Linked DNA regions of Homo sapiens: region 2 is linked to region 1. The links come from fine-mapping of genetic effects on gene expression. A gene starts in region 1. The other region holds a variant in brackets. All regions are shown on one strand. Distances are from middle to middle.

What was found. PIP is the estimated chance that this variant, and not a neighbour inherited with it, causes the effect.
Region 2: its variant is fine-mapped to the expression of ATP10D in pituitary (GTEx, PIP 0.92).

What each region holds. Positions count from the first base shown.
Region 1 is chr4:47,482,499-47,487,887 of GRCh38, reverse strand. It overlaps ATP10D (ATPase phospholipid transporting 10D (putative)), which reads right to left and starts at 2,613. Exons shown (of 23, transcript NM_020453.4): 1 at 2,369-2,613. RefSeq lists enhancers at 2,441-2,510, 2,482-2,776.
Region 2 is chr4:47,540,586-47,545,974 of GRCh38, reverse strand. All of the region lies in intron 9 of ATP10D (ATPase phospholipid transporting 10D (putative)), which reads right to left. Among named protein-coding and RNA genes, the nearest start is that of ATP10D, 58 kb to the right of the region's middle. The variant G/A (reference allele first, on the strand shown) is at 3,045.

The DNA.
Region 1 (5,389 bases):
TACAAGCATGAGCCACTGTGCCTGGCCCAACATTCACAGGTTTTAATACATAATACCACGTAATTGCCTCAAATAGTTGTATTGATATACCTTTTATTGAGTAGCATTAAAAAAATTCCATTAAGGCCACAACTCTTTTACAAAACTAGCATCACTGTTAGTCCTTATTCTGCAAAGCGATAAAAAAGTATTGTTTCTATGGCTAAAATGATTTCTGAAATGAAATAAATTTATCTAAGAAAATATCGAAGGAATAACTGACGAGGAATAGTGATAGCATCCAGCACACATATATTTATTCCTAGAGTTGATAAATCAATTCTCCTTTTCTTCAAGCACTATTAAATTTATATTTATCAGTGCATTGTTCTGTGAGAATTCTCAGACAATCTTACTTGTAGCATTTTCTTTGATTCTTCTTCATTAGAAGAACTACTTCCAACTATATCAGACAATAAAGAAAACATGTAATGAAGGCTTGAATATGTGTACATTTTTTTAACCCTTAATTTAAAAAGTCAATTATAGGAAGTACATTTGTCTGACAGGTGAGTCACCTCTGTTCTATTATAAATTATAATCATATTTGAGCATTTCCCTTCGTTTTACTGACAATAGCAAAATAAATGAGATTCTATTTTTTTTTTTTTTTTTTTGGGGGACGGAGTTTTGCTCTTGTTGCCCAGGCTGGAGTGCAATGGCCCGATCTCGACTCACAGCAACCTCCGCCTCCCGGGCTCAAGCGATTCTCCTGCCTCAGCCTCCCGAGTAGCTGGGATTACAGGCATGCACCACCACGCCCAGCCAATTTTGTATTTTTAGTAGAGACGGGTTTCGCCATGTTGGTCAGGCTGGTCTCGAACTCCTGACCTCAGGTGATCCGCCTGCCTCGGCCTCCCAAAGTGTTGGGATTACAGGCATGAGCCACTGCGCCCGGCCCTATTCAATTCTATTTAGTCACTAAGTATGAAAAGTATTCAGGTTTTGCTAAGCCAGGGTCAAACACTCCCCACATCCTAGTTTAGAGTGCTTAGATTTTCCCTCTTTTTCATGCAATTTAATGAATGTTAAATTAGCATGAAAATTAAATGTTATTTTTAAACTCCCTAAAACTTTAAAATGTTGCTAAGTTATTTTTCCAAATGTATAAAATGACCTCATTTTAATAAAAATAAACTATCTCAATGTAGGTATATGATACGTATTTGTAGTGAGAATAGAAAACAGTCCAGAAGAAGCAGTTATTACTTTTTGAGGTGGATCGGAGTGGGAGGTTCTTGCTGCGGGCACTGAACAAACTACTCCGTTGCAATGATTTTTGCTCTTCACAAGTCAGCAAGGGTTTTCGATGATGCTATTCTTCACAGAAATGTGACCTACATGATTTAAAGGCTGATACAAGTAAATATTGGTGGATGAGGAGCCCCTGTCCTTGTTGATGCATCTCTCAAGGTTGATTTTGAGTTAGAGGTTTGCTCTGTCCATACAGACTTGTTTTTCTCCCTGCTTAGAACCAGCATGAAAAGAACGCAAGAAGAAACTTTGGTCTTATTCAGATCACATTTTAAAAACCTGAGCTAGCATGATAAGAGCAGTTAAAACATATTCTTTCTAAAGGCACAGGGTCCCAGACACCAAAATAACCATCCATTCCCTAACCAACTGATGTCTCTCTGCTGTACGTGGTAAATTAAAACTACATGTTTTACAACGTAAAATAAAGGGTGCCCCGAATAACAACTAGGTTCTTTAAAGTTAGTGTTTTGGGGGAAGCATGGGGGCTTCTTTGTAGCACTCCTTTGAAAACTATTTCCGAGAAAGCTCCAATACAAACACCTTTTTCTTCCTAAGGAATCAACCTTAGGGAATCAACCTTAAGGAATCAATCTGCTGGGCTAAATCTTCAACACCTTCCCTTTTCATCACCTTTGAGGCAGATAACCAAAATTTCTTTAAACTGCTTATTTCACAACGGGATGACAAAGGAGTGTGTGTGTGTGTGAATGCGTGTGTGTGCGTGCCCGTGTATGCCCGCGTGTACAAAGGTGTGTGAGAATGCGTGTATGTACGTGCCCGTGTGCGCCCGCGTGTGCAGTTTACCTTTTTACAAAATCCAGCATTTAAAATAGATTTTTAAATTCCCCTTTAACAAATGATTGAAAATGGTGTAATCATTTTATCTTTTGTTGTTTTTTTTTTTTAGTTCAGTAACAGCCCAGAACTGTAGTTTTGAGCCATGTCATCAAATCTAAACACGACTAGGGAAGTGGAGCGGGGAGAAACAGGAGAGAGAAACAGAAAGGAAAAGCGGGTGGGCGGTGAAGCAGAAGGCTGGGACAGTCAGAGGGATTCGCCGTCTCACTCTTACCAATTCCTCCCTCGGCACACATCACAGCATGTTGGTCACGAGTCGCAAGGTACAAGAAAAGAGCTAAGCACAAATTCGAAGAGTGAAAGCGGGTTGTGCTTCCACGCCAGCCATTTGCCTTCCGGGAAAAAAAAAAAATCACTTAGACATCTCCCAAACTCAGCTGCGGGAGCCAGCGCCGGAGCCTGTGCTGAGCTCGCAACCTACTTCTCCCTCCGCTCCTCCTCCCGTCTCCGCCAGGCTGCAGAGCAGCCCGAGCTGCAGTGCACCGCCAATCGCCCACCGCCCCGCCCTCCGTGACGTAGCAGCGGCAGGGCCTGGCAACTGACCGGCTCCCAGCTCCAGCTGTTTGACCGAGCTGCCCTTCTGCCCAGCGCAGATGCCCCAGTGACCCAGAGCCCTTACAATCTCACCTCTGACTTTCACCTCCCAAGTACAGGTTGCTCGCGGTTGACGGTTTGGTTCATTGTTTTGCTGCAATTCTAACAATTCACTGTTTTAGCTAAACGTGGAACACTGGACAATTATTTTTTGGAGGGTAAAAGAGATCAAATCTAAAAATGTCGCGCCACTGCATTCCAGCCTGGGCGACAGAGTGAGACCCTACCACAAAATAAATAAATAATATGTAATGTTACTGTTTTTATGACTAGAAAAGAAATGAGGAAAAATATTACAATTCTGATTTGGTCGTTTTCCTCACACCTTGCCCTTCCGTTCCCTTACTCAGGATAATGTGGCTTTGTCCATACACCTGCCAAGGTCCGTTTGCTTAAAATTCACAACTTTTTTTAAAACTTCTAAATAAGTTTCAACAACCTGTCTGGTTTCTCAAAATGTCTAATTTGGAAAGAGGAAAAGCCATTTAGTGAAGGCCGAACCAATAACTCAGAACAAAACCTAATAATCTTGGCTGCCTGTTTTATCCCATTGAAACAAATATAAAAAGTGGGGCCAAACTCTCCACAGCTCTCCTATATTGTGCCTCTCTCTTCCATTCTCTCAAGTGTTTCTCAGATGTGCAACAAGAGTGAAGAAAACTAAATGAGCATGCAAATGTTTGACTATTAGTAAAGAGCTCACCAGTACAGACACAGGGAGCTGGTTGGTCGGCTTGAAAATTCTCTCAGACCAAGAGAAGCCAAACAAGTTTCTGCACCCACTGAGAACGTGCTTCTGCCAGACGAGGAGAAACAAGTTCTGGGTGTGGCTTCCTATGATGCTCCATTAGGGAAGCCTCCATCTGCAGGTAAGGACAAATCTCTAGAACTTAGTCAAACTTAATCCCCAGAATTAACCCAGCCTAGTAGAATACACTGTCATTTACATGGCCTCTGAAATTCCTGGCCCTAGTAGCACTTTTTGCAGTCATATGACTGTCTCTAACATCCTTTAAGATGAAACACATTTCCTATCTGAGAGTCAACCTTATAGAGGAGACTTAAAACTGTAGCTGGGCCCCCCTGAGCTCTCCCAATCAAACACTGGTGTTGTTACCTCAGCAGAGGGCCTTCCTGGGAACGTACATACCAGGACAATTCAGGCATGTAGCCTGTTTGGATTGCTTAAATCAGTGGTTCTAACTAGCTACACATCAGAGTGAACCGGGGAGCTTGATGCCAAGGCCCCACCCAGGCCAATTAAACCAGAATCTCTGGGGGTGGCGCTATGGCAATGTCTTTTTTTCAAGCTCCTCTAGAAATTCTAATGTGCACAAGGGTTGAGAATCACTGACTAAGATTTGAATTATTGTCTTAGAAGAAAATCTATTATATTTAAGTCTAAAGAGCATAGTAGTAGAATAATGGAAAACATTATGTAATACAACTTAGCCTTATACATATTCTTTATATATTGGTTTATTTTAATATAAATATAAAAACGTGAAGATACACCTCAAAATTGTTTACTCAGGGAAGGATAGTGAGGGGAGATTACTAGCTTTCTATTTGTGTCTGTCATTTGAATGAAATTTGTATCATTTTGATAATTTAAATATTTCTAATCAAATTTTTAAAAATCAATACTCATAAATACCATGAAGGTCATTGGAATAACCACTATTAAGGTGGGTTTCTATCAATTTATTAGGTTTTGTTGTGTTTGGTGTTTTCTTTTTGCAATGCTTCTGTAATATCCAATTTTCTCCTCAGAGTGATTCCTATTTTGAAAAAGACAAAATACGATTCTTAATTTAAGACATTAGCTACTTTAAATCTATATAGTAATTTTTAATTTAAAAGATACTTACTTTCTTGTAATTTCAGAAAGGTTTTCTTTTTTGCACTTCTCAGGAAGTTTTTTAAAAAACCAATATTTCAACTGTATAATATAGAAGTGAGGGAACTTCATCTTTTCCAGCTAGAAAATTATTTGGACTCTCAACACTAATAACTCTCAATACTTCATAATTAATTGTCAATGCGAAATATATGGCACAGTAGTCAAATGCCTAGGTTTGACCTGGTTTTAAATCTTGGCTCTGCAAATTTTTAGATATGTGATCTTGGGTACCAACACTAAGCTCTGTAGGTAAAATGGATCTAATAATATCTTCCTCTGTGTTATTAAGACTATATGAAGTTAGGTAGCTGAAGTGCTTATCACTGTGTAAAACACTTAATAGGTGCTTAATAAATGATAATTATCAATTTCCTAACTTCTCTTTTTCCTTTCTTAAACATACTCAAGGATTATTAGTATGGCAGCAGAAGACAGAGTTATCAGAAAACATTTTTCTAAAACAGTAAACAGGGTTCTTCCTAGAACCTATTATATTTGTTATACAGTTATATGTAAAAGAGAGACATATTCATTATTTCGGGCTACTGCTTTAACATGTAACGTGTAAAGCAGCGTGGTTTACTTTTGTTTACCTCAAAATATTTCACATTTCCTAAAGTGGCACACAGGCTGATTTCTTATGATTCATAATCAACCACTGCTTTTTCTTTGTACTTGTTATGAGTCAAGCACAGATTAGGACATTTCCCACGATCAGTTTTCTGACTGACTTTTGGA
Region 2 (5,389 bases), 58 kb before region 1:
AGTCCTCAAATACTGGAGAGCTGCAGAAGCACCTTCCTTCTCTACCTGCATCTTCCTTGGTGATCTCAACTGGTCCCATCTTTGAAATGACCTCACTGGGAAGTGAAGACTTCCCAGATCTGACCACACAATTTATAATAGATCCTATGCCAAGACCTACCACCATCTACACATATATATCTTATTTATTTTATTTTTTGAATCATCCAGTAGAATACAATCTCCAAAAGGTCAGAGAATTCTGTCTGTTTTGCCAATATGATAATCTCAGACTTCAAAGCAGCAGTTGATAGGTACTATCTTTGTAAATCAAACTTAACGACTTACACAGTTACTTAAGCCAGAAATCTAGAATCCTCCTAATTTCCTATCTTCTTTCTTATTTTCAAAGTATAACTAACATCTGTCCTCCATACATCCAAAAAATATCTCAAATAACTCTACTTCTCTCCATATCCATTACCTTAGTCCAAGCCACCATCATCTCTCAACTGGACCAGTGCAATAGTCTCATAACTGGTCTCCTTGCCCCTCTGCAATCCATTTTTCAAATAGTAGCTAGAGTGATCTTCCTAAAAGATAAAGCAGATCAGATCACTTCCTGCATAAAACACTCCAGTAGCTTTACAATTCACTTAGAATAAAATCTGGACTCCCTATCCTGGCTTAAATAACTCAAGATGATCAGAGCCCTGCTGACCTATCTAACTTCACTTCTCTTTCTACATGCCCACTAAAATCCAGACTCACTGGCCTTCTTTCTTTACTTTGAAAAGTAACAAGCTCACCCTTGCCTGAGGGCTTCTTTACTAGATGTTCCTTCTGACTGGAAGCCTTTCCTACGGAATTTCAAGATTATGTCATTCAGATCTAAGCCCCATGTCCCACTTAGAGAGGCCTTGCCTGACCCTCCAGTTCAAAGTGGCCATCCAATCATTTTATATTATACCACCTTATTTTAATTTTCTACCAAGTACTTATCGCTAATTTTTTTCTTGATTTAAAAAAGTAATATATTTGTGAATATTTTCTCTAATAGAAACTCTATGAGAGCAGGGGCCTTATGTGAATTGTTCAGCATTGTATCCAGTGTCTGGAATATAGACCATCGATAAATAGGTGCTTGTTGGATTGCCAGTCTTCTCTATTTAGCTATAGGATAAAGTATGGCTTTGGGTAAGTTATTCTATGAAGTGAAGAATGTTTGCACATTCTATTTTTTTGTAATAGTTTTTGTCTGTATTCTTTAAGGACAAGGAGAGGCTAAGGGTCTATGTGGTGATCCTAGGTTCCAGTACCAACTTTTTCAAAGACTAAGTGGCTTTCAGCAAAATCACTTGCTGTTTCTGGGCCTTTGTTTTCAGAATGAAACATTTCAGAATGAACGATTTGGATTCGGTGACTTTAAGATCTTTCCCAGCTCTGCAAGTCTCATCATATAATCTGCCTAAACAACACGGAATGTTTCCCAGTATGACCTTCCAGCTTCAAAAACTGGTTTACATATTGTGTCCCAGAGATTCTGATCTCCTCCATTTTCATCTATGCCTTTGCTTGAAATATTCATTTGCGTCCTTTCTATTTACATAAATACTGAACATCTTTAGAAGTTTAGTTCAAATGCCAGCTCCTCCACAAAGACCTCTGTAGCTATACTGACTCTTACTCATACCACTCATTGGGAATTTATAGATTACATGTGCAGAATGTACCAGGCATTTGCTTATGTACCAGGCACTTGCCTCATTTAATCATTATATCTCAGCAGATGCTATTAATACCAGCATTTTACAAATAAATAAACTTAAGTAATTTGCCCCATCTCACAAAAATGGTACAAATTAGTCTTAAAATCAGTTCTATTAAACTCCACAGCCCCATGCTTTACTGTTTCTGAATCTACCTATATATGTTAACAGGGCCAATTTTTAACACATGGCCAATATCCCCTGCTTAATTTCAATGAGTCCATGTTTTTTCATTTAAATAAAAATTTATTAAATGAATAATAAATGAATGAATCAATAGACATGTCAATGAAATATCCCTAGTATTAAGGGAAAGTTGTGGGGTAGGAAGTTAATATTTTTTGAGATCCTCCTTTTTTCATGCATATATATATGTGTGTGTGTGTGTGTACATAATATATATGTATACCTATTTCCTTTTTATCTTCAAAATAATGCCATCAGGTAGAAACTATCACTGCCCACTCTGCAGCTGAGGAGATTAAGACCCAGAGAGATTAAGCAGTTCAACCATGATTAAACAGCTAGTTGTGGGTGGAGCTGGAAATTCGATTTAGGTCTTCTGCCTCCAAAGCCAGCACACTACCCACTATATTATAGCTCCTCAGCAGTGATTTGTATATAATAAGTTGGCTCAGTGGTTCTCCACATGGGGTGAATTTGTCCCCTGGGGGTTTGGCAATGGCTGTAGATACTTTTGCTTGTTATAACTGGGTGAAGTGTGCTGCTGGCATTCAGTGGGTGGAGGCCAAGGATACTTCTAAACATCTTACAATGCTCAGGACAGCCCCCAACAACAAAGATTAATCTAGCCCAAATAGTGCTGAGACTGATAAATCCTTGAGTAGCTCAAGGAATTTATTGATGACGTAACACCATTTAAAAAATATTTTAAAAATACAGAAGTTTCCCCTTTTTCACAGGGGATATGTTCCAAGACCCCCAGTGGATGTCTGAAACCACGGATAGTATTGAACCCTAAATATACTATGTTTATTCATATACATACATACCTATGATAAATGTTAACTTATAAATTAGGCATAGTAAAAGATTAACAACAATAACTAATAATAAAATAGAATAATTATAACAATATACTGTAGTAAAACTTATGTGAATGTGATCTCTCTTTTTCTCTCTCAAAATATCTTATTTTACTATACCAAAGGTAATTGAAACTGTGGAAAGTAAAACCACAGATAAGGGGGTAATACTGTACTTCAAAACACATATAAACATGGAGGCTATATTTAATGATCGTGTAACTCCTAGCCATCATTAGGGAAATCAGTC[G/A]TCATGCAACTATATAATTAGTATAGTTCCAGGTAGCTCAGCTATTACTGTAGGGAAAACTTGTTCAGTCAGTACAATTGCAAAAGTGGAATCAAGAAGATATGAAGTGACTCAACCTTTAATCATTTTGTGGAAGCTATGAAAAGGAAATAGGCCAGGCCCGGTGGCTCAGGCCTGCAATCCCAGCACTTTGGGAGGCCGAGGTGGGTGGATCACCTGAGGTCAGGAGTTTGAGACCAGCCTGGCCAACATGGCGAAACCCCATCTCTACTAAAAATACACAAAATTAGCTGGGTGTGGTGGCGGGCACCTGTAATCCCAGCTACTAGGGAGGCTGAGGCAGGAGAGCTGCTTAAACCCAAGGGGCAGGGGTTGCAGTGAGCCAAGATCGCACCACTTCACTGCAACCTGGCGAGACTAGACTCCTTCTCAAAAAAGGAAATAGACCAGTAAAGTTACAATGTGATTCAGAAAACAAAGCTACTGGAGCTATAATTCCAGGCTCAGTGAGAATTTTATAAAAATTAGGTGTGAAGCCAGGTGTGGTGGCTTACACCTGTAGTCCCAGCACTTTGGGAGGCCGAGGCTGGCAGATAGCTTGAGCCCAGGAGTTCGAGACCAGCCTGGGAAACATGGCGAAATCCTGCCTCTACAAAAAATACAAAAATTAGCCATGCGTGGTGGCATGTGCCCATAGTCCCAACTACTTGTGAGGCTAAGGTGGTAGGATCACTTGAGCCCAGAGGGTTGAGGCTGCAGTGAGCTGAGATCATGCCACTGCACTCCAGCCTGGGTAACAGAGTGAGACCCTGTGTTAAAAAAATATATTGTATGAGAAACAAAGGTTTATTATAATATTGATAAAACTTATCCAAATCGTTATGACTTTTAATATTTCTTAGTATTTCTTTAATATTTCTTAATACTTACCTTAAGGTAGACTCCAAAATAGTTACATGAATGCCTCAAAGCAGGGCAGGAATTCTTACTTTTTGCTTCATAAGAAAAAACTTACAAAGTCTATTCTTTCCTTTGTCTGAAGGTAGATATTGAGATAGGTACCAAATTGTCTACTTTATTTCTCTTCATTATTTAATCCCCGATCTGTCTTTTCTTCCCATTCCCCTCTTCAAATACCCAGTAATCTTCCTATAGCCTGTTACTTGCATCAATTTGATATATGGAAGAAGTGGGCATGAGTCTACAGAACAAAAAGTTTATCATACTTTCAATGTGCTCTCCAAAGGGCCCGAAACAAAGGTGAACAGCATTCAGATGAGCTTCCTTCAATTGTATCATCAATCCTCCATCAACCCTTTCACTATGAACTAAATCTGCAAACATTTCCAGCATTCCAACTTTTGCCTGCTTGTAAATAACACACTCAGCTAAACCTCCTCCAACTGTATCACCCATATATCCTTGATATATAAACCTTTGTTCTAAACAAATTCCCCATACAATTCCAGCATCGTAAGAACATCCAGTATCTTGGCTTCAACATCCCAAGCCTTAATCAGTGCAAAATCCACCTCCAATACTGACTGCCTGAAAATCAAAACAAAATGGAACAAGAACACTGACTTTATATCTTATGACAATGAACATGATAATTTATGTTTACATATCTGCCTCCCACATCGGACCATGAGCTCCTTAAGAGATAGGCCTATTTCTTATTTTAACAATATTTACAACAACAACAACAGTAACAACAGCTATATTTATAGAGAACTCATTTTGTGCCATTTGCTGTTCTAAATTCTTTATGTGAATTATCTTCTCTCATTCTCTTAACCATCCAATGAGATAGATAGTGTCATTGATCCTTTTTATTGAGGCACAGAGAAATTAGATAGTTGTTAAGGGCCACACAGCTTGTAGGTAGTGGAAATGGGATGCAGACTCAGGAGGCCTGATTCCAAAATCCTTGTTCTTGAAAAGTGTTCAATGCTACTGCCTCCATGTAAATCAGATTCACAAATTGTGCATCATAAATGTATACTCTGGACAAGCCCAAATTGATGGACATTCTACAAAATCCCAGAATAATGCCACTCAAAACTGCTAAGTTTATCAAAAGGAAAGAAAATCTGAGAAACTGTCACCTAGAGAAACCAAAATGATGGCTGTTATGCAGCATCCTAGCTAGGATCCTGGGACAGAGAAAGAACATTAGGTAAAAATGAAGGAAGTCCAAATAAAATATGGGTTTCAATTAATAATAATGTATCAGCATTTGTTCATTACTTATCTCAAATATATCATATGACTAATGCAAGATGATAACAGCAGGGGAAACGGCATGAGGGCATGCTGGAACCCTCCAGGATATTTTTGTAACT